Linked DNA regions of Homo sapiens. The protein of the gene in region 1 interacts with the protein of each later gene in a pairwise test. Each region holds a gene or a part of one and is shown in the gene's direction. Other genes may lie near its edges.

Region 1 (7,989 bases):
CTGGCCAACATGGTGAAACCCCATCTCTACTAAAAATACAAAAATTAGCCGGGCACGGTGGCAGGTGGCTATAATCCCAGCTACTCGGGAGGCTGAGGCAGGAGGATCACTTGAACCCAGGAGGCAGAGTCTGCAGTGAGCCGAGATCACACCACTGCACTCCAGCCTGGGTGACAGACCGAGACTCCATCTCAAATAAATAAATAAATAAATAATAAAGGCAGTGTTGAATGAGCAGGTCACCCTGTGGACAATGAGGTCTCCATCCTGCTGGGGACCTCTCAGGGAACTCTGGAGTTCCCCACCTGAAGACTTTGGGTTATGTATCCACTAACTCCTGTCTGATGGTGGCCCAGGACCTCTTTAGGGGTGCTGACTTCTAGCGCCTCCTACCCTGGTCTGGAAAGCATTCAGGGAAGGGTCGCAGGTGCCAGCGTGAGAGATGCTGTTGGGTCCTAGGTGGTATGAGTGGGTCAGAGACAGCCTCTGCTATGATTACTTCCCAGAACGGGGGTCTCACTACCTCCCTCTTCCAGTAAGGCAATGGGTGGCCACCAGCACAGCACTGACTGTGCCCAGGTTGCCCTCTCTCCTGGTCTGATGCCCCCAGCTCCCTCCTCGGCCTCTCCCAGGGAATCGGGAAGGGTTGGTACCTGGCATCTCCTCCACGTTCTGCCGTCCCCCTGAGGATTGAAATCAGACACTAGGGAGGACTTCCAGGCACACATGGCCAAAGGAGAGAGGGATGAGGCTCCAGGCTTCAGTGCCTCCCAAGGTACCTCCTCACTCTCTCCTTCTCGCCACCTTTGCCTCCCGTTCCCTGCCTGCTCCCTGCAATTCTCTCCCTGGGGAAGTGCGGGGAAGGGAATGTCATGGGTGGTGGATTGAAAGGGGTAGGTGGGGTCAGTAGAGGGGGAACACAGACGGTGGAGGAGGTGGAGAAGGGACACAAAAAGAGGAGGGGAAGTTGGAGAGGGAGCAGAGAGCCAAGAACAAAACACAGGGGCCGGAGAGGCAGCAGAGACAGAGATACAGACAGGATGCAGAGAAGATGCAGACGGAGGAAGCCCAGAGACTCAGAACACAGCACCAGGGAGGAGAGCGAGGTGGGGAGCGGGGCGGGGCGGGCGTCCCAGGGCGCCAGGGCAAGACCCTCACCCCATTCCCAGCACACAAAGCCAGTGAGGCCAACGCCGAGGGTACTCTCAGAGACCAGAGATTTAAAAGGCACGGCTGGGCCGACAGAGCCCATGGCAGACAGAGGGACATGGAGAGACAGGGAGAGAGACACACAGAGACAGAGGGAGAGACAGAGAGAGATGGAGAGACAGAGAGAGATGGAGAGACAGAGAGAGAGGGAGGGACAGAGAGAGAAATGGAGAGACAGAGAGAGACAGAGACAGAGAGAAATGGAGAGACAGAGAGATGGTGAGACAGACAGAAATGGAGAGACAGACCCCAAGAGGGAGAGACAGAGAGAGATGGAGAGAGAGGGAGAGACAGAGAGAGAGGGAGAGAGAGGGAGAGACAGAAAGAGAGAGACAGAGAGAAATGGAGAGACAGAGAGGGAGAGATAGAGATGAAGAGACAGAGAAGGAGAGACACAGAGAGAAATGGAGAGACAGAGAGCAAGAGGGAGAGACAGATGGAGAGAGAGGTAGAGACAGAGAGATGGAGAGACAGAGAAAGAAATGGAGAGACAGAGAGGGAGAGACAGAGATGAAGAGACAGAGAGAGAAGGAGAGACAGAGAGAGATAGAGAGACAGAGATGGAGAGACAGAGAGAGATGGAGAGACAGAGAGATGGAGAGACAGAGAGAGAGGGAGAGACAGAGATGGAGAGACAGAGAGAGAGGGAGCAACAGAGAGATGAAGAGACACAGAGAGGGAGAGACAGAGGGAGAGACAGAGTGGAGAGACAGAGAGAGAGATGGAGAGGCAGAGAGGGAGAGACAGAGAGAGATGAGAGACAGAGAGGGAGAGACAGACGGGCAGAGACAGAGAGATACAGTTATAGAGAGACACAGAGACAGAGTCAGAACTGGAAAGAGACTCAGTAAGAGAGAGACAGAGACAGAAGGAGAGAAGGAGAGAGGGTGAGGAAAAGGAGGATGAGGAGGAGGACGGACCGGAGACAGGACCCAGAGGCACAGCGAGAAACTGGCAGAGGAAAGCAGATTCCAACAAAAAAGACGGAGAGGGCGAGGAGAGATAGAAAGGGAAGGAAAAGAGGGAGAGAGGGGTCTCGGTGGGAGCCGCAGCCTGTGCCCCGCCCCCCGCCCGGGTCAGGCCGGGTCCTTCCCGCCACCGCTGAGCCGTGGCTAATGGTATGATTGCTTGGTGGGGCGGGAGGGGAAGGGGGCGGCAGGCATTTGTCAGGGCCGGTGACGAATGAGCCACAGGAGTCTGGGCTCGGGTGATGGATGGCGTGGCCAGCGGGCGGAGGGGCGGGCGCAGGGGTGGGCGCCCCCACCAAGATAAATGTTTCCTTCTCCTGGAGCTGGGCCAGGCAGCGGGAGGACGGGAAGGGGGCGATGTATTTATGAAGGGCCCGGGTGGAGGAGAGGGGAGAGAGCCAGGGAGACAGAAGCCCAGGGAGGATACGGTGGGGGGGACAGGGAGGCGGAGAGAGGGAGAGGAAGGAGGGAGAAGAGACAGAGGCCCCTGGAGAGAGAGACCGAGAAAGATGGAGAGAAAGAGAGATAAGAAAGATGAGGCAGAGAAGACATCCAGACAAAGAGACACAGAGATACAAGAAAAAAAAAAAAAGCCAGGAGACAGACAGACAGACACAGCCCAGGTGACAGACAGACAGACATAGCCCAGGCGGAGATGGAGACAGAGACGGCCTGTCTTTTAGGGTCCCTTCTTCCCCCACCCTCCTGAGCAGAGACACAGATTCTCAGAGAGAGCCTGGAATGAGGAGGAGGAAGCAAACCTGGGCCCCCAGAAGGAGAGAGACAGACACAGAGCGGTTGATAAAGAGGGGAAACCGAGGCAGGAGGCTAGCAGGCCCGAGAGAGAGGACAGGAGGAACCCAAGGTGGATCCTCGTTCATTCGGTCTGCTCCTGTAGGCTTTCAGAGGGGATCCTGGGGACCACTGCGGATCCCCGGGGGACGTGGCTGCCTGGTGGGCATAGCCCCAGTGGTCGGTGCTCAGGTTGGGGCACTGAAGGGCCAGTCCGCTGAGAGATCGCCCAGCCCGTGCTGGGGAGACCCATGAGGTCCCCCAGATCTACTCATAGAGGGCTCCACGCTTCCCGTCTGTAAAACAGGTGCAGGACAGGGCTAGAGGGCGGAGACCCCTGCAGACTGGGAGCTGGGGTCACTCTGATGCCACCCAGGGAGCCACTCAGCCGGGCAGGGAAGACGCTTCCAGACACTGTCACAGGGAGGCCCAAGCACACCCTCGAAGAGCCGACAGGCAGCCGCGACGCAGTGACACAGGCACCCCCGCTCCAGCACCAGGCCTGGCCGCCACCTGCTCCCTCCCCCTGGGAACAGAAGGGTCCCAGGACTATTTAAGGGAGACAGCCAGGAAGAGAGAGAGAGAGAGAGAGAGAGAGAGAGAGAGTGTGTGTGTGTGTGTGTGTGTGTGTGTGTGAGAGAGAGAGAGAGAGAGCGAGAGACAGAGACGGACAGACAGACGGATGGACAGACAGAGGGAAAGACTGGAGGAAGAGCCTCAGAAAGCCGGAGCCTCCCCCCTGCTCCCTCCGTCCCCCGCCGGCATCCTCCATCCTCCCCCAATCAATTTCTCTCCCACACACTTATTTCTCCCTTCCCAACAGCTCGTCTCTTTCTTTAATTAGAAAGATTTATGCTTCAGAGTCCAAGCCCCCTGCTCTTGTTTTGGGGGTGGCAGGGACGACTCCAGGGTCTCTATTGGAGCTCCTGTCCCCCACTCCCTCCCCCTCCTGTCTGTCTCACTCTGTCTGCACCTCTCTCTCTCTCTCCTCCCACCCGCGTCTGTCTCTGTCTCTCTCTCTCTCTGAATCACACCGTCACTGGAGTTACCTCCCTCCCCACTCCAGTTAGGCCCCATCCCCATCCCAGGTGCCCCCTCCCTCCCTTCCTGCTCTGTCCACGCCCCCCACCACTGGCCGTCAGATGAGGCCGCACTTGCTCCTCTAGGTTTCAGAATCAGCCTGGGCTAAGGGGACCTTAGCATGCACCACCCCCCAAAAAAGCAAATAGAGCCAGAGACTCCTAACCCTTGCATCCCTCACCCCAAGTCTTGGCTGAGGGTGAGGTGGGGGTGGAGCAGACCAAAGGGCCTTGTGTCTTTAATTAAAAAGTGATTTAAATTAATTTTCTGCTCCAAAACCCCTATCTGGGGTGCGCCGGCCTTGAGGAAAGGCAAGGCCTCCAGACCCTTCCCCTCGGACTGCCTTAAACGGCCAGCCTCACCGCAGGACAGCCACGGGGGCAGAGCCCGCCGGCATGGGGACCCCCAGACTCAGCCAAGACCCTGAGTCCTGGCACCCTCTAGCTTAACTGTTTCTCCGTTATCCACAGCCCACCCCCGCCGCCCCCAGCGCACTGCCCATCCTGCAGAGGGGGAATCGAGCCTCAGAGAGGGGAGAGCCTACGGTGGGACCAGACTCCAGATTCCCACGTGACCCCTGGAGATGGCCAGGGAGGGGGTCCGTGGTGTGTCCAGGGGGCTCGGAGAACAGAGAGCCAGAGGAGAGAAAGGACGGGAGAAGCGGAGACAGAGAGAGACAAGGAGAGAGAGACTGGGAAAGAGGGAGACTGAGAAACCCGGAGCAGGAACCCCAGCCCTGGGTAGGAGAGGAGGGGCCTGGGGGCACCAGGGCCGCGGTCTCTTCCTCTCCTCCCCCCACAGCCTGCCCCTCCCCGACTCCCACCGGAAGTGCTGCTGCTGCCCTAACCCCAATCCCTCGTGCTGTAGCTCTGCAGGCTCACTCTGGCTCATCCCCTATCCCGCTCCTTGGTGGTTCTGTTTAATTTCCACAAGACAAGGGAGAGACCGGGAACGGGGAGCGCGGCTGCCAGCACCCCTGAGCCGCCGCCGGACCCTCCGTCGCCCCGGGCCGCCCCCCGCCCCCTGCGGTCCCCGGTGTGTCCGTCTCGGGACGGTTCGATTCCCTCCAGAGCCGGGGAAGGGACGGGGGGGGCCCAGAGGAGGGGGCCTCGGGCGCCCCGCCTGCGCCTGCTGCCCCCGCCCCGGCGGCGATGCGCTCCTGGCCGTGACCCCCGCTGGGGGCGGGGGCCGGGGTCCATGCGCGGAGTCCCCACCCGGCCCGGCGCCTGCCGCTGACGGCGGCGGGGGTGGGGGGGCGCGCGCCTGGCCTCCTGCCCACCCCCTGGCGTCAACACCGCGGGCCGTCAGGGGCTGCGGCCCCGGGCTGCGCCCTCCCCCGCGGCCAGGCTCTGGAGGGACCCAGGAGCTGCCGCCGGCCTCAGCCCATGGCCCGGAGGGTAGGTCTCGGGGCGGGGACCCCGCGTCCCGGCCGCTTCCGCACCCCCTGTCCCTGCATCCCCCACTCTCCGGCGCTGGCCCCCATTAGCCCATCCGTCCTCTACACCACCTCGCTCTCTCTCTGCCCCTCCCTCCGCCCCTGGGTCTCCCAGTCCCTGTGTGCCCCCTCTCTGCCCCCAAGTGTCTCTTCCTGGCCCTCGGCCTCGCCTCCTCCCCATCGTTTAGCTTCTCCTTCTCCCTGCCCCTCTGTCCCCCTCTGTCTGCCCCACTCTCCTCCTCCTTTCTGCCTCTCTGTCCCCCTCTCTCTGTCCCTGGTCTCCCCCCTCTTTCTGCCTCTCTATCCCCCTCTCTCTGCCCTCCCCCACCCGCAGTCTCTCTCCTCTGTTCCTGGGCTTCCTCCTCCATCTCAGCCGCCCGCACCTCACCGTCCCCCCTTTTTTCTGCTCTCCTCCGTCCTTCCCTTCGCTCTACTTTTGTTCCAAGCCGCCCCTGCCTCTCCAGGGCTAGGAGTGGGACAGGGGTGGGAGAGGTGGTCTCACCAGGCTGCTGGCCCCACGGAGCCTGTCTCCCTGGGGATGGGAACGGGGATAGAAGACAGGGGAGGAGGCGCGCGCCCGTTTTGGGGGTTCCGGGTAGGCTGTGAGGACCGCTTTTGGTGAGAGTGCCTTGAGCAGCGGGGAGCAGTTGGATTCAACTTCAGGGCACAGGAGAAGTTAGGAGAAGAGGGAGAGGGAAAGAGTGGGACACACAGAACCAGGGTGCCCAGCCAGGCGAGGGTCCGAGGCAGGAACGTTCTAGCCTCTTCCCGTGCGAGTCCTGCTGCCTCTTTGAGCCTCCGTGTCTTCATCACTGAGGAAGGGATTTGACCTGATGAGAGGAAGGTGCCCCTGGCTTCCCAGGTGCATGGTTCTGTGACGACAGGACGCGGTCGTCCTACCCCATAATGGTGTTTCTCTTGGGTGCGCAATCGTGTCTGTATGGTGGTGCGGAGTGACCCTCTCCGGCAACAAGTGCTCACAGCATGAGCCAGGCCCTGTGCTAAATGCCTCATTCATTCATTCATCCATGTGCCAAATGTCTCAATCATGCATTCATTCTTGTGCCTGGTGTTGGGCTGTGTGCATGTGTGTGTGCATGTGTGTGTGGGGGGGGGGATTTGGGTGTGACTGACACATGAGTGTGCACGTGGGTTGGTGTGTATGGCTGTGTCTACATGTGTGGTAGATTCACGTGGCGAGTGGAGTGTGACATGTTGTTGAGACTTACTCTGATGCGCTTATCTGCCAACTGTGAAATGAAATAGAAGACAGGGAGGCTTCGTATGTGTACTTTGTGTACAACAATGCGCGGTTCCTACAGGAGGTGTCCATGGATCTCCCTCTCTGTCTGTCTCTCTCTCTGTCTCTGTCACTGTCTTCTCACGCCACTTTCTCCATCTCTTTTCCCTCCCAGCCAGACCCTGCCGTCTCTCCCTCTGGGTCCTCCTGCCCACATGTCAGGAATCTCTGCCTGGACGGGGTCCTCACTCCCCACCGAGGCAGCTCCAGGGGACCTGGAGGGCTTCAAGCTTGGGGGCTCAGACACCTGGGGACCACAGGCAGGTTTCTGGGACACAGAAGGGCATCTCCTGGGTTCCAGGATAGAGAAGCTCCTCAGCCGAGTCTCGGGGTGCTGACCCCTCCCTGGGGCTCCGCCCTTCTCTTCTCACCTTCCCCCAGTATGATGAGCTGCCGCACTACCCAGGCATCGTGGATGGCCCCGCAGCCCTGGCTAGCTTCCCAGAGACAGTGCCCGCAGTACCAGGGCCCTATGGCCCGCACCGGCCTCCCCAGCCCCTGCCCCCAGGCTTGGACAGCGACGGCCTGAAGAGGGAGAAGGATGAGATCTATGGGTGAGTGGGGCCGGGTCTCAGGCTCCTGTCTCTCTCTCTCTGTCTTTCTGCTTCTTTGCTCCCTGGGTCTGCTTCTGTCTCTCTCTGTGTACGAGTCTCTGTCTCCTTCCCTCTCTGGGTCTCTTGTCCCCTCCCCAGCTGTTCTGCATCTTGGCAGCCCCTCCATCCACCTCCCAGCCTCTCCCTCAACCTCTCTCCTTTCCTGCCTCCCCAGACACCCGCTCTTCCCCCTCTTGGCCCTGGTCTTTGAGAAATGTGAACTGGCTACATGCTCTCCCCGTGACGGGGCCGGAGCTGGGCTGGGGACACCCCCTGGAGGTGACGTCTGCTCCTCTGATTCCTTCAACGAGGACATCGCTGCCTTTGCCAAGCAGGTGGGCACCTCCCACCCACCACACACCGAGTCAGAGAGCCAGCGAGGAGGGGTGGGTGGAAGGCGGGACATCCCCCTGCCGGCCTCTCTCTTCCCTCCCAGGTTCGCTCTGAGAGGCCCCTCTTCTCCTCCAACCCAGAACTGGACAATCTGGTGAGACCCGAGCCCTCCCCCACACCCCCTCCTCCAATGGGTCTCCTTCCCTGACGCCCCATCCCTGGGGTTGGTGGGGGGGGTGCAGAGAGAAGGCCACCTGGTCCATGTCCCCAAACCGTCAT
Region 2 (7,021 bases), on another chromosome or scaffold:
CTGTAATGGGGGAGTTTGGGGAAAGACCAGGGGGGATGAGCAGTGGCTTCCCCTCTTCTCTGGGACCCAGAAAGCTGAACGCAGGAGCCCCATGCTGTTTCCACGAGGGGTTTGCCTCTATTTTTAAACAAACAGGTTTCTCCCACTTTGCTTAAATATTTGAGTGTAAGATTTGTGTGATTTCTCTTTTTTGAGCTCAAAACAATTGGGGAAGATATAGCTGGCCCTGGGGGATTCCTGTTGGGAAGGCAGCGAAGTGGGAGCTCTGGCCAGTTTGCTGGGCTGAGCGGGGTGCTGGCTGATGGAGAATTGCAGGCACCAGGAACCAGCTGGAGAGTGGGATAGCCCTGTGCCCAGGGGTCCTCTCCTCGTCTGTAAGGAATCGGGGCTTCTCATTCAGTTTCGAGACAGAACTCCTTCCCAGCAGGCTGAGGAGAAATGACTCTGCGGGGCTTAGCAAATTGATTTCATTTTTAGCCAGAACTTCAAGACCTGTGATTTTATCTGTTTGCCCTTTGCATGAGGACATCTGCTTCCTAAATTCTATCAGCATAGCCCAGAGGCTGCTCAGCCACTCTGCATTCCCCAGCGAGGTGGCACTGAGTCCTTCCAGAGCCAGGACCGTGAACCTTCCTGGACCCTGAGCCCAAGGTCGGAGTGGAACAGGATCCTGTGCAGAGCCAGCCAGCCACGGGGTCAGGGAGCCAGTTGGGTCCAGCCCGCAGATGGGCTGCCACTGTTTGCACTCAGCACAACCATCCACATCTTATGGCAACATTGGAACGTTGTGCTGAAGGTCTCAAATAAGAAAAGGGAAACAAAGAGAAATCGTGATCTGAAAAGTCAAAGAACTGGGCAGACAGGAGTAGCCAAACACACAGAGCTGGGTCTTGCCCCCACATTATGTTCTAGCCACGGCTGGAGGAGGAGAGGGAGGACAGGAATCCTGGATGTGTGGTGCTTCGTGGAAAGCACACGTGGAAAGCACCTTGTTGACCTGGACAGGACTGCATTACTCACCAGATGTGGACACAGTGCCTTTACTTTTACTTATTTACAACAGCGTAACAATCGCCTCCACAGAGCATGCTGAATTCCAGGGTGCTTTCCTGAACTACCACCAGAGACTCCGCTGGAAGCTACTTGGGAGATGCCTGGGTTTCCCCATTAGCCAGTCTTAATCATTGGGAGGAACTTGCTCTCTCTCCCAGTCTCTCTCCGCATCTCTTACTGGTCATGCTCCTTGCTATCTGGTGAAATCCAGCCACCCTGTGATAGATACACACCTCTCCGCATCCAGTGTGGCATTCCAGGGTAAACAGCCTGAGCTCTGAGCCAGCCTGAAGTGTGAGGCTACATTTTAGATAGAGAAACAGCCCAGGAGTGTAAGAGCATCGTGAAGGAGGCACCCGGCGCCTCTGCTGCCCCACCCCACAGCCTTCCCTCTGGGTGTCACCCGAGCTTGTCTCCTTTAAATGTTGGCTTTTATGTTTAAGGTGTGGCTGACTCACCCTGTTGCCTCTGTCCCCAGTTTCTGGCCCAGCTGAAGCTCATGGACTACAGTCTGCTGGTGGGAATTCATGATGTGGAGAGAGCCGAACAGGAGGAAGTGGAGTGTGAGGAGAACGATGGGGAGGAGGAGGGCGAGAGCGATGGCACCCACCCGGTGGGAACCCCCCCAGATAGCCCCGGGAATACACTGAACAGCTCACCACCCCTGGCTCCCGGGGAGTTCGATCCGAACATCGACGTCTATGGAATTAAGTGCCATGAAAGTAAGTTTGATTACTGTGGACCCTTTTTGCATGTGAAGTGGTTTGACTTTGGCCTTGTTATCTACCAGTAAGCACTACCCCAGTTATGAGGGTGCTGCCCGGCAGCACTCATCCTCCAAACTCCAAAGAAATGGATTTGGGGACAAGAGTATGTTAAAGCTAACCGTGATCTCAGTGCTGAAACATAAGGCGATCGGACCTTTGAATTCTGTGATGTTGAGGGAATACAGCAAAACCACGAACTATACTATACATGTACAACACACCTGTACATATGCACATACACACTGGCATACAACGTACGTGCACACACAACACAACATGCATGTACATATGCACACATACATGTTCACAAATAACATCAGAAATGCTTTAAAATATTAATACGTTTTTGCCTAGTTATCTTTTTTATCTAAGTCAAAAGCATCATGAGTCTAAGCTAGGCACATGCATGTGATCCTCTGTGACCCTTAGCTTGTCCTCTTGTCATTACCAACAGCCCTCTCCCTCTCAGGGGTGTGAAGGGTGTGTGAAGATGGGCCCTGTGGGTGGGGTGGGAATCTGATTTGCTGCTGAGTCTGGCTCTGCTGTCCTCCCCCATGGAAGGGCCTATGGCCCTCTTCCCTAGAGTCAGATAAATCTTAATCCACCGTATCCAGGTGATTGGGTGCACCAGTTATTTGAATATTACATCCTACCTTAGCAACTTATCCGTGACAATACCAAAATATTTTTGTGATAGGATAAAAACAGCTTCTTGGTTTTTGAATAATAAAAACTGTGGCTCATCAGTTGTTTTTTAATCTCAAATGGCATATCAGCTGAGGATCTGAGTTCTGTTTTGTTCTGTTTTGCTCACCAAAATGTTTTCTTCAACACAGAAAATTAGATAGTCAAATGTACTTTTCTTACTGTTCATATTTTTGGAAATGGATAGAAAACAGACACGGGCCGGGCGCAGTGGTTCATGCCTGTAATCCCAGCACTTTGGGAGGCCGCGGCAGGCAGATCACCTGAGGTCATGAGTTTGAGACCAGCCTGACCTACATGGAGAAACCCCATCTCTACTAAAAATATGAAATTAGCTGGGCATAGTGATGCATGCCTGTAATCCCGGCTACTCGGCAGGCTGAGGCAGGAGTCACTTGAACTCGGGAGGTGGAGGTTGCTGTGAGCCAAGATCGCACCATTGCACTCCAGCCTGGGCAACAAGAACAAAACTCTGTCTCAAAAAAAGAAAATAGACATTGGAGTGGATGTATGCCTTTATCCAGTTCTGATACTGTATCCAGTGAGAATTATGAACAGTTCTACCATTTGATGTAAAGGATTAGTGTACATAATTAGTTCTGTTTTATAGGGTATTTTTAAATAGCATATTTCTTCACACCAAAGCAATACACAATTATTAAAGAAAATGCAAATTAAAAAAAAAAAAAGACTCCGTTCCACCGTTGGATCTCCACTGTTGATACCCTGGTGTGATGATGTTTTTAGTTGTTAGGGTTGTTTCTTTTTAAATTGCAGGGGGACTGGGTCAGAGAGGCAAGCTGTGTGTTTAGTCAGGATCCGCAGGGGTGGTGTAGAGTTTGTCTCTGGACTCCTTCCATCCGCGTTCCATTGAATCCCCTCCCTCCAGGCTCACTTCTCCCTCCCTCCCTCCCTCAGCAGCAATGCTGGCACTGGTGTTGTCACATGTCCCACAGTCATTGCTCTCCTGTCTCTGCAGACTCGCCTAGGAAGGAGGTGTACTTCATGGCAATTATTGACATCCTTACTCATTATGATGCAAAAAAGAAAGCTGCCCATGCTGCAAAAACTGTTAAACATGGCGTGAGTATCTCCATTTTGTTTCCTTCTCTCTTTCTCTCCCTCTCTCTCTCTCTCTCTCCCTCTCTCTCTCTCTCTCTCTCTCTCCTGGCTCCTCTGTGTGACCTGTAACTCAGGGATCACTCCTTTCTGCCACTGAGCTGCTTTCTACTGAGCCATTCAAAGCCCTTTAGTGACGCTTGTTCCCTGGGGGCAAGTCATGTTCTGAGCGTAAGATACAGAACCCACAAACGCTTACTGCTCACTGCTGCTCTTACCACAGCTCCCTGTGGCTTCCAGCGAAGTCACTTAAACATGAACATCTCTTCTTTTTACACATGGCGGACACTAACAGGCATGCGCATCACTAGGATGTTACACAAATTCTTTTTTGTTTGAAAAATGTTCCAGAGATAAAAGTGCAAAAGAAGATAATGAAGTGTTCTAATATGAAATATTCAAAACTGAAGCATGATTGTCTGCTTAAGACACTTCCCAAGTATACAGGATTAATATTTCTTTTCTCACAGTGAGTTGTATTTTTTCTACTACAGAAATCTCTTGAGTGCAAAATCAAAGTTGCATAATATTACTCACCGTTAATGTTGCTTGATGGGAGTTTTCACTGCTCTAGCCATATGTTAAGCTATTTTATCCCCCATGAGAAGCCTATGAAAGAGATAGTAGTGTACCTGCTTTTGTCAGTTGGAGAAACTGAGGAAAATAGCTTCAGGAGTAACTTGCCAGGGCCTCATAGTAGCAAGTGGCAGAGATGAGATTCCTCCCCCGGACCCAGCCCCCTCCTGGCTCTGTGTTCATGCTCATCCCCTTGCCCTGCCTGCAAACACCTCCTGCCTGGCTGAACTTTACAGCTCGCCAAGTTTCAGGCTTGTATTGCAGGGTGCCATCTTTGTTTTGCAGAGGTCCTGAAAGCCATAGAGCCCACCCCACACAGATGAATGTATTCCCTGGTTTGTTGGCCCTGGAAGAAGAGGTGCTTCCCACAGACTGTGTAGAACTAATGAAGATTCACCAGAACCAAAAACTCACTTGAAACCTCTTCTTTTCTATTTTAAAATAGAAATCAGCCTAACAAACACAGTATTCTATTTGCCAAAGAAATATTTCAGTCACATTGTCGATAGCTATGGTATTCCTGCTGTGTGCAGAGCACAGACTGGGACCTCACCGCCCCCGAGCACGTCAGTAAGCAAGTGTGCCTGGTGGCTTCCCCCCAACAGAAATTTTTGAGTACTCTTTTTAAACAAACATCCGCACCAGGTGCACCACCCCCATTCCGTCATTTCTGAGGCCAGTTCAGGAGGGTGAGGGAGGGGTCTTCAGAAGACTCCATGGTCATTCTGATGCTCACCTCTGGTTGAAAACCATGGAGTGTGGCAAAGAGAGAACTGGCGAGGAATCCTCGTTTGACCCTTCCCACTTGTATGACCTCAAGGGGACACTTTTGGAGCTCCTGTTTTTTCACCTCATACAGAAATCCTACTGCCTTGCTGATGGGGTTTTGCCAGAGATACAAGAGTTGTCTGGACAAATGCTTTGTAAATGTCTGTTCCCATATTATACATCCTGTGAAATTGGAGTGTATCCTAGCCAATATGGCTCCATGTTCATCTCTCCTATCCTAGCCAATATGGCTCCATGTTCATCTCCCCATAAGCCACAAGTTCGCCTCCATAGTGTGCCACACGGCATAAAATCACAGGTAGTTTGCAAGAAGAAAACATTACTGTCAGCAAAGGAACGCTGTGTTAAGCTGCTGTGGGGGACCATTCTCTCTGCATTCAAGCCTGGGCTCCTCCATGCAGCCGAGGCCTGGAAATATTACAAGTTCCCCGGTGAACATGGGTGTCTAAAAACAGCACATGCTCACTTAGCAAAACTCCGTGCTTGCCCTTTGCAGCTCAGGAAACTGGCCAGTGAGTGACTCCCTTGAGTGTGCTGGCCTGCACCCTGCATCTCATCATGGAAAAATCCCTCACCGTGCTTCTGCAGGGGGCCAGGCTTGCTTGCTCTCTGCAGGGCTCAGAAAGGGGAACAGTGGCACCCCTGTGTGCTGCTGCAGAGGGAAGTCAGCTCCTTCCCCCGTGGGCAAGATGGAGCCAGCAGTGTTGTGCCTCACCTGGTTACGGTGCAGGGAATGGGCTGGGGGCAGCTGTCCCAGAACCTGTGGCTGCTGCTGTTGCCCCTCATGTTTGAGCACTGAGCTGGGGGCCTCTGTCCAGAAACGAAGGGGTCCTGAAGAAATCATGCGGTTTTAAGTCATCGTCATTAAGGTTTCCCTTTCGCCAAATGTTGATGTCATTCTCAAGGTGGCTCCAGTCTGCCTTCTTGAAAAGTATAACATAAGTATTGTTTCCGTGACTTCTGAACAATTCCACTCTTTGATAGTAACATCCCAAACGTGGCCTGTTTGATTTTTTTGTGAGTTGCAACAGCCCCGGTGTGTGTGGTAGCATCTGGTGCTCCTGTCGCCCTTTGTCTCATTTGCAGACACAGATTTGTAAGAACCTTGCTTATTCAACCATGAGCGCCAAGATATTTTGAGTGATGTTTTTCAGAGCAGAGACTGCATGGATTTGAAAATTGCTTGCTGTATATTCAGTTGCCATTGGAAATAGCTGTAGATATTGAGTAATAATTTGGGGAAATCATAAACACTATGTCAATATTTCCTTTTTTAAAAACTGCCCAGGCTGGCGCGGAGATCTCCACCGTGAACCCAGAACAGTATTCAAAGCGCTTTTTGGACTTTATTGGCCACATCTTGACGTAACCTCCTGCGCAGCCTCGGACAGACATGAACATTGGATGGACAGAGGTGGCTTCGGTGTAGGAAAAATGAAAACCAAACTCAGTGAAGTACTCATCTTGCAGGAAGCAAACCTCCTTGTTTACATCTTCAGGCCAAGATGACTGATTTGGGGGCTACTCGCTTTACAGCTACCTGATTTTCCCAGCATCGTTCTAGCTATTTCTGACTTTGTGTATATGTGTGTGTGTGTGTGTTGGGGGGGGGTGAGTGTGTGCGCGCGTGTGCATTTTAAAAGTCATAAATTAATTAAAACAGATCCACTTCGGTCAGTATGTGTCCCAACAAAGACCCTTTGATTCCAGCTATGGCCGAATGAATGAGTGAGTGAGTGAGTGAGTGAATGAACACACGTGTGGGGGAGGGGAGAAGGAAGTGCATGATGTCAGGCACCGTGTTGGCATCACACAACAAACTGTGGATCAGTTTTTTTTTTTTTTTTTTTTTTTTGGAGTTGAAAGATGTGAGACAGTATTCAGAATAATGAAGATAATAATGATGATTATTATAATAATGATGATGATTCCAAGGAAAAAACCTACAGCGAATGTTCCATTTCTACCCCGCACGCAGACACTCTCCCTAACACTGATAACCTGAGCCCCCA
Region 3 (7,021 bases), on another chromosome or scaffold:
AGGCTGAGGTGGGCGGATCACCCAAGGGCAGGCGTTCGAGACTAGCCTGGCCAACATGGTGAAACCCCATCTCTACTAAAAATACAAAGTTAGCCAGGCGTGGTGGTGCATGCCTGTAGTCCCAGCTGCTTGGGAGGCTGAGGCAGGAGAATTGCTTGAACCCGGGAGGCGAGGTTGCGGTGAGCTGAGATTGCACCATGTACTGTGGCCAGGGCAACAAGAGCAAAACTCCATGTGTTTTAAAAAAAAAAAAAAAAAAAAAAAAAAGCAAAAGAGCCAGCAGGAAAGACCATGTGTTCAAAGCCCCCTTTGGGAAGAAGGCAGAAAAGAGACAAGGTGCTTATGAGACACATGACTAACCGTGAAGCTGTTGGTCTCCCTGGGCTTGTGGAGCCCACAGGTTATTTGTGCATTGGTGAATGCGTGTCCCTGTAGCTCTTTGTGCCTTGTGATTTCCCCGACTGTTTCTCTCATGTCCCAGGCTGGATGAGTTGGGGGTAGCCTCCTTGTCTGCCCCTTTCTCTTTCCTCCTTATTTTCTAACAGTCCCCTTTGTTACATCTTCCTCCATGGCACAGTTCTTTCTATTTCCTTTGTCTTGGCTCATCCCTAGGTTACTTTTCTTTGCCTCTGATTTGTTCCCTAATAGATGTGGGCGCCCCAGCCAGAAGCAGAGAGGGGTACAGGGAAGCTACAGAGAAGCCCCTTCTGATGCCCCAGGGAGCAAGTCGACTCCTTCCAGGCTCCAGGAACACCACAAAGCAATATGAAACCTGTTCATGAAAGGAGTCAGGAATGCCTTCCACCAAAGAAACGAGACCTCCCCGTGACCAGCGAGGATATGGGGAGAACTACCAGCTGCTCCACTAACCACACACCCTCCAGTGATGCTTCTGAATGGTCCCGAGGGGTTGTGGTGGCTGGGCAGAGCCAGGCAGGAGCCAGAGTCAGCCTGGGGGGTGATGGAGCTGAGGCCATCACCGGTCTGACAGTGGACCAGTATGGCATGCTGTATAAGGTGGCTGTGCCGCCTGCCACCTTTTCACCAACTGGACTCCCATCTGTGGTGAATATGAGTCCCTTGCCCCCAACGTTTAATGTAGCGTCTTCACTAATTCAACATCCAGGCATCCACTATCCTCCACTCCACTATGCTCAGCTCCCATCCACCTCGCTGCAGTTCATTGGGTCTCCTTATAGCCTTCCCTATGCTGTGCCACCTAATTTCCTACCGAGTCCCCTCCTATCTCCTTCTGCCAACCTTGCCACCTCTCACCTTCCACACTTTGTGCCATATGCCTCACTTCTGGCTGAAGGAGCCACTCCTCCCCCACAGGCTCCCTCCCCGGCCCACTCATTTAACAAAGCTCCCTCTGCCACCTCCCCATCTGGGCAATTGCCACATCATTCAAGTACTCAGCCGCTGGACCTTGCTCCAGGTCGGATGCCCATTTATTATCAGATGTCCAGGCTACCTGCTGGGTATACTTTGCATGAAACCCCTCCAGCAGGTGCCAGCCCAGTTCTTACCCCTCAGGAGAGCCAGTCTGCTCTGGAAGCAGCTGCTGCAAATGGAGGACAGAGACCACGAGAGCGAAATTTAGTAAGACGGGAAAGTGAAGCCCTTGACTCCCCCAACAGCAAGGGTGAAGGCCAGGGACTGGTGCCAGTGGTAGAATGTGTGGTGGATGGACAGTTGTTTTCAGGTTCTCAGACTCCACGGGTAGAGGTAGCAGCACCAGCACACCGGGGGACCCCGGACACTGACCTTGAGGTCCAGCGGGTGGTTGGCGCTTTAGCTTCTCAGGACTATCGTGTGGTGGCAGCTCAGAGGAAGGAGGAACCCAGCCCCCTCAACCTATCCCATCATACCCCCGACCATCAGGGTGAGGGGCGAGGGTCAGCCAGGAACCCTGCAGAGCTGGCAGAGAAAAGTCAGGCCCGTGGGTTCTACCCTCAGTCCCATCAGGAACCAGTAAAACATAGACCTTTACCCAAAGCAATGGTTGTAGCCAATGGCAACCTGGTGCCCACTGGAACTGACTCAGGCCTGCTGCCTGTGGGCTCGGAGATCCTGGTAGCATCAAGTCTGGACGTGCAGGCCAGAGCCACCTTCCCAGACAAGGAGCCAACGCCGCCCCCCATTACCTCCTCTCACTTGCCTTCCCATTTCATGAAAGGCGCCATCATCCAGCTGGCTACGGGAGAGCTGAAGCGGGTGGAGGACCTCCAGACCCAGGATTTTGTGCGCAGTGCCGAAGTGAGCGGGGGGCTGAAGATTGACTCTAGCACGGTCGTGGACATTCAGGAGAGCCAATGGCCTGGATTTGTCATGCTGCATTTTGTGGTTGGTGAGCAGCAGAGCAAAGTGAGCATCGAAGTGCCCCCCGAGCACCCCTTCTTTGTATATGGCCAGGGTTGGTCCTCTTGCAGCCCTGGGCGGACGACACAACTCTTCTCTCTGCCCTGCCATCGGCTACAGGTGGGAGATGTCTGCATCTCTATCAGTTTACAGAGCTTGAACAGTAACTCAGTTTCTCAGGCCAGCTGTGCTCCCCCAAGCCAGCTGGGTCCCCCCCGAGAAAGGCCTGAGAGGACGGTCTTGGGATCCAGAGAGCTATGTGACAGTGAGGGGAAGAGCCAGCCGGCAGGAGAGGGCTCCCGTGTGGTAGAGCCTTCCCAGCCTGAGTCCGGTGCTCAGGCCTGCTGGCCAGCCCCGAGCTTCCAAAGATACAGCATGCAAGGGGAGGAGGCACGGGCTGCGCTGCTCCGTCCCTCTTTCATTCCACAGGAGGTAAAGCTGTCCATTGAAGGGCGTTCCAATGCGGGAAAATGAACCTCTTCCCCAGACCAGGACTGGGGCTTTACCCCAGAGCCTCGCCTCGCCGCCGTGAGCAGGCAGAGGATTTGCACACGCCGAGCAGGGAATGGCTTTCTTGGCAGTGAGATTTGGGGGAAAGGGGAGGCATGAAGTCAGCCTCCCAAGGCAGGATCTGTTGTTCATTACCCCATGGCATCCTTTCAGGACAACCCCAGAGGGTGTTGTGATGGGGAGCAGCAGGCCTGGGGCAAGGAAGGAAGGGGGTGCACACAGGAGAAGAAACATTCCAAAATCAGGGCCTCCCTGTTCTTTCCTCCCCATCCCTAGCTCCTGCAAGAGAAAGTCCAGGCTTTGGGAGCAGATGGCAGAGGGAGGGAGTAAAGAAAGAGCCAAAAATGATGATCCACAGCTTATAGTAGCAGTTAAACTGTCAGAAGTTTTTTTTCTTTTTTGTGGTAGAAGGGCAGGAGGCCCCAAGGTTGGAAATAAGAGGGTTCCCACCCAGAACCCTTCTTGTGAGAGATGCGCACTTTAAAGGGTGATTTTGTTCCAGATGTCTATGGCTGGGTGTGTGGGGGAGGAGCACTCTCATCTGCAGGACTCTGCTTGATCCTCTGCTTCATAGCCCTTCCCCATCTCTCCTCACCATTCTGCCTACAAGGCTTCTAGCAGCACGGGGGCCCGGAGGGAGAGCCCCTTCAGGGTTCAGAGTGAAGTACTACCTTGCCAGGGACTCAGTCAGGGGACTTTGGGAGAAAGACTTGATAGCCAGGCTGACTGGGTTCTAGGCAGGCCCTCTGGAAAGGTAGCTCACCTAACAAAGCTCCTCCATCTCAGCATGCCAGACCCACTTTGAAATCTCACAGAATCTTGCTGGTAATGGTGACTTTAGAACTAGTAGACCCTTTTTCCCAGGCACTGACCCCCCACCTTTGTCTGTGTTGTGCCCAAGTGCCTGCGCCACCCCCACCCTCCTGCTGCGCTGACCGCTGCATGGTGTCGTGACCTGGGCCTCATTTGTAGCTGCACTGCCTTTCCTTGTCTGCAAAGTTGGTTTTGTCCACTCTGACCAAGACCTCTAGTTTTTGGTGGGTAGGGGGTCTCTCTGGTTTCCCCTTCAGCTATAATCTCTATTTTTAAAATCTCAAAATCATGTCCCCTCCACTTCCACTGCCAAACAGCTTGGTGAAGAAACAAGAAGGGAACTATGCCCTGGGCCAGGGCGAATGCGTGGCTGGGCAGTGCCCATCATGGCATTTTCACATGTCCCATATGCCCCTCCTGTCTTATTCCACTGCTTCTCCCAGCATTCTGGTGCCTCCAAGCCATCCCCTCCCACCACCAGCTCTAAGATTCTAGGATAGTCTTGATAACATTTCAGTACCTGAATAGATGTCATTTTGTGTTGGTATATTCCTCTGCAAAAAGTATTTTCAATCTTGGTTGCATTGGCACCCCCCCTACCCCCCACCAATGTCTTAATCCCACATTTTCTTCACAACTTTTAGCATCAGCTCAGACCGTGGGGTTCCACTGGGTATTGGGAATTAGGCTCCCCCACTAGCTTTCAGGTGGGTAAGTTTTTTTGTTTGTTTTTTGGGGGTCTTTAGACTCTTGAAGGCAACTCAGGGTATTGTCCACGCAGCTCTCTGGTTAGACTTCTCCCAGGCTATGATCCTGGCATGTCCTTTATAAGGTATACTTGGATTGGCCGAGACCTGGCCTGGCATCAGGAGTCCAAACCTCTGAGGTCTGATCTCTGCTCTGTCAAGGACTTTCGGCAAGTCTCGTGACCTCTGGCTCTTTCACTTCCTCCCCACCTGCCAAATGGGGATAAATAATCTTACCTACCTCCTGGGGGGAGGGGAAGTTCTGAGAATGGAGTCATTCTTAGTGTTCAGGTGCTAAAGGTTGTTCTCCTGGGGGAACAGAGTGACTGAAACTGGCTTGTTTGCTACAAGCCCTACCCTCCACTCTTTCATTCCTTGAAAGCAGTTTGCCTGGTCAGTCAGCTTTTGGGGGTCCATCAAAGGAGGTTGCTGACCTGACCGTGAGTGCTTCAGTATCTGGTTTGTGTCAGAACCAGACGCCAACTTTGTACTGCATTTGGGATCATATCTTTCCCCTTCTCTGTCCCCCATTCTCTGAATGCTGCTTTCTCTGGCTTGTTTCCTACAGTGGGGGCCTGTGGGGTTGAGTCTTGAGGAATCCCCTCAAATGAGAAGGCCTTGGGAGAAGGCCTCATCTCTGGCTGTTTCATGAGCAACTCATTCCTAGAGTTCATTGTTTGCATGGGTTTCTCACAAGCGTCCTTCCTCATAGGAAGGCTCATCAACTGAATTTAGTGACATGTACACAGTAGATGCTCAAGCAGTGTCTGCAAGGACACAAGCTGAGCTTTCTCCTTATGGGGCAAACCTATGTCTAACCAGATACAGACCAATTAGTTTAGATCAAATCACCTTCCACTTGGGCTACTTGTGACTTTCCAACCTGGTAACTTCCACTGAATTCTGGAAAGAGAAATTCTTGAGGACCCTGGCAAGTTGGGCCCTGACCTTTCTGTTGCTGTCTCTTGCTGGTGAAGCAATACCAGCAGTTCCTGTAATACCACAATATCGTTCCATGCATATATAACATATTAATACTTGATTTTGCTGAGCTGCAAAGGTATCTGTCATAAAATATGGTCCCCAGGAAAAGAATCTCTGTGCTCTAAATCTCGGTCAGAGCTGTGGCCTCCCCCTTGCCTTTAACCTCTAGTTTAGTCTTTTCCTCCAGGCATGAAAAATATGACTAACCTGTGGTGTGTCCATTCTTCCTTATAGGAATTTCCTGAGTTTGCAGGAGACATGAGAGCAGTTTTTAGCGAGTATTTTAGTGGGAAGTTGCCAACTTTTTAAGAATGAGCAGTTGACAAGGGCCAGAGCCTGTCCCTTGTCAGCAGTAGGACATTTCCAGCTCTTAGGAATAGAAAGGAGGACTGCTGACTGTCTGGCGCTGTATAAAAATGTGTATACCAATTTGGGAATAGGGGAACCCAGTCATGGATGGATAATAAGCCAAGTCTTGAATCATTCCTATCAAGATTAGTATACATGAGGAAGAGGTGGCATGGGGGGAAGGGGCTCTGGGAGTTCAGAGCTGAGTACTTGTACCTGAGGGAGGGCCCCCAGCCAATCTGGGCTGGTCCTTCTATATTCTTGGTCCCAGTTGGTCATAACACCAAGGGCTTTGCCCTGCGCTGCTTTGCCACTGCTGCTGTCCGCTCACTGTCCTGCCTGCTGTCCTCTACAGCTCCCTATCCTTCCATGTCTTTGGCCATGTAGATTAAGTGTAGGCGTCCGGTTCATTCTTACCTGTGTTAGGCCATGTTATTTTATAGCGAAGTCATGTTCGATAGGGATGGTATGAAATGCTGCTGGTGGGCTGGTAAATCCAAAGGGATAAGGCTTCAGTGCTGTTGGGAGCCCTCTGGCTCCAAATGTCTGACTATCTTGAGGGAGAAACAAGCAGGTTTCTACTAGTGGTGTCTTCTGTTGTATTAACTTCTTTCCTTTGTGGTATCTTGTATCCTGTTTTAAAAACTAAATGAAGGGAACCACATTAGGGCCCATGCCAGCATCCCAGTGAAGTTCGTCCAGCTCCAGTTAGGTGGATTCTGGAGTTCGGAGAGGGTTTAAAGTTTGGCTGAAATAGCACCTCAAGTGGGGTTTAGTTTTATTTTTACCTGCGGGCATCATGGGCGATTTAGGGGGAAGCACAGGATGGTGGTGTGGTTTAAACCTGCAGCAAGCAGGCATGTTGAAGAGTTGAGTGATCACGCTGGAGATGAAGGGTTGGACATGGATTGACTGGGAAAAGGCCTGGGTCCATTGGAGTAAAGATAACCTAGTCGATTGAATTGGCCATGGGAAGTTAGGTCACAGTCTTATAAACAAAGTAAATAGGACAGAGACTAAGTTTTAGGGAGACATCTTGGCCTCCTAGGCTAAGTTTACTAAACCACACTGAAGCTATAGTACCTTCCAGATGGGCAAAAGTGTACACTACAGTTGAGGAGCTGAACCTTATTAGGTTGGATGTCGATCAGGAACCTGTTTGCCCTTTGCTGGGAAGCCTTCACTCTCCAGCTTTCCTGGGGTAGGGAAGGTCTCCCACATTATGCAATAATAAAATAAGCATCTGGGTCTTTGCAGCT

The links. The genes of interacting proteins can lie anywhere in the genome.
Region 2: the proteins of MEIS3 (region 1) and PIP4K2A interact in binary tests that used the Homo sapiens proteins (3 or more experiments, as listed by UniProt).
Region 3: the proteins of MEIS3 (region 1) and ATXN1L interact in binary tests that used the Homo sapiens proteins (3 or more experiments, as listed by UniProt).

The regions. Positions count from the first base shown.
Region 1 is NC_000019.10:47,416,527-47,424,515, reverse strand, and holds the start of MEIS3 (homeobox protein Meis3), read left to right. Parts: upstream 1-4,988; 5' UTR 4,989-5,434; coding exon 5,435-5,446; exon of another isoform or gene 5,447-6,768; coding exon of another isoform or gene 6,769-7,044; intron 7,045-7,165; coding exon 7,166-7,338; intron 7,339-7,552; coding exon 7,553-7,712; intron 7,713-7,813; coding exon 7,814-7,864; intron 7,865-7,989. UniProt on the Homo sapiens protein: Transcriptional regulator which directly modulates PDPK1 expression, thus promoting survival of pancreatic beta-cells. Also regulates expression of NDFIP1, BNIP3, and CCNG1.
Region 2 is NC_000010.11:22,536,558-22,543,578, reverse strand, and holds part of PIP4K2A (phosphatidylinositol 5-phosphate 4-kinase type-2 alpha), read left to right. Parts: intron 1-1,531; coding exon 1,532-1,775; intron 1,776-3,504; coding exon 3,505-3,608; intron 3,609-6,297; coding exon 6,298-6,378; 3' UTR 6,379-7,021. UniProt on the Homo sapiens protein: Catalyzes the phosphorylation of phosphatidylinositol 5-phosphate (PtdIns5P) on the fourth hydroxyl of the myo-inositol ring, to form phosphatidylinositol 4,5-bisphosphate (PtdIns(4,5)P2). Has both ATP- and GTP-dependent kinase activities.
Region 3 is NC_000016.10:71,848,976-71,855,996, forward strand, and holds part of ATXN1L (ataxin-1-like), read left to right. Parts: intron 1-648; 5' UTR 649-765; coding exon 766-2,835; 3' UTR 2,836-7,021. UniProt on the Homo sapiens protein: Chromatin-binding factor that repress Notch signaling in the absence of Notch intracellular domain by acting as a CBF1 corepressor. Binds to the HEY promoter and might assist, along with NCOR2, RBPJ-mediated repression.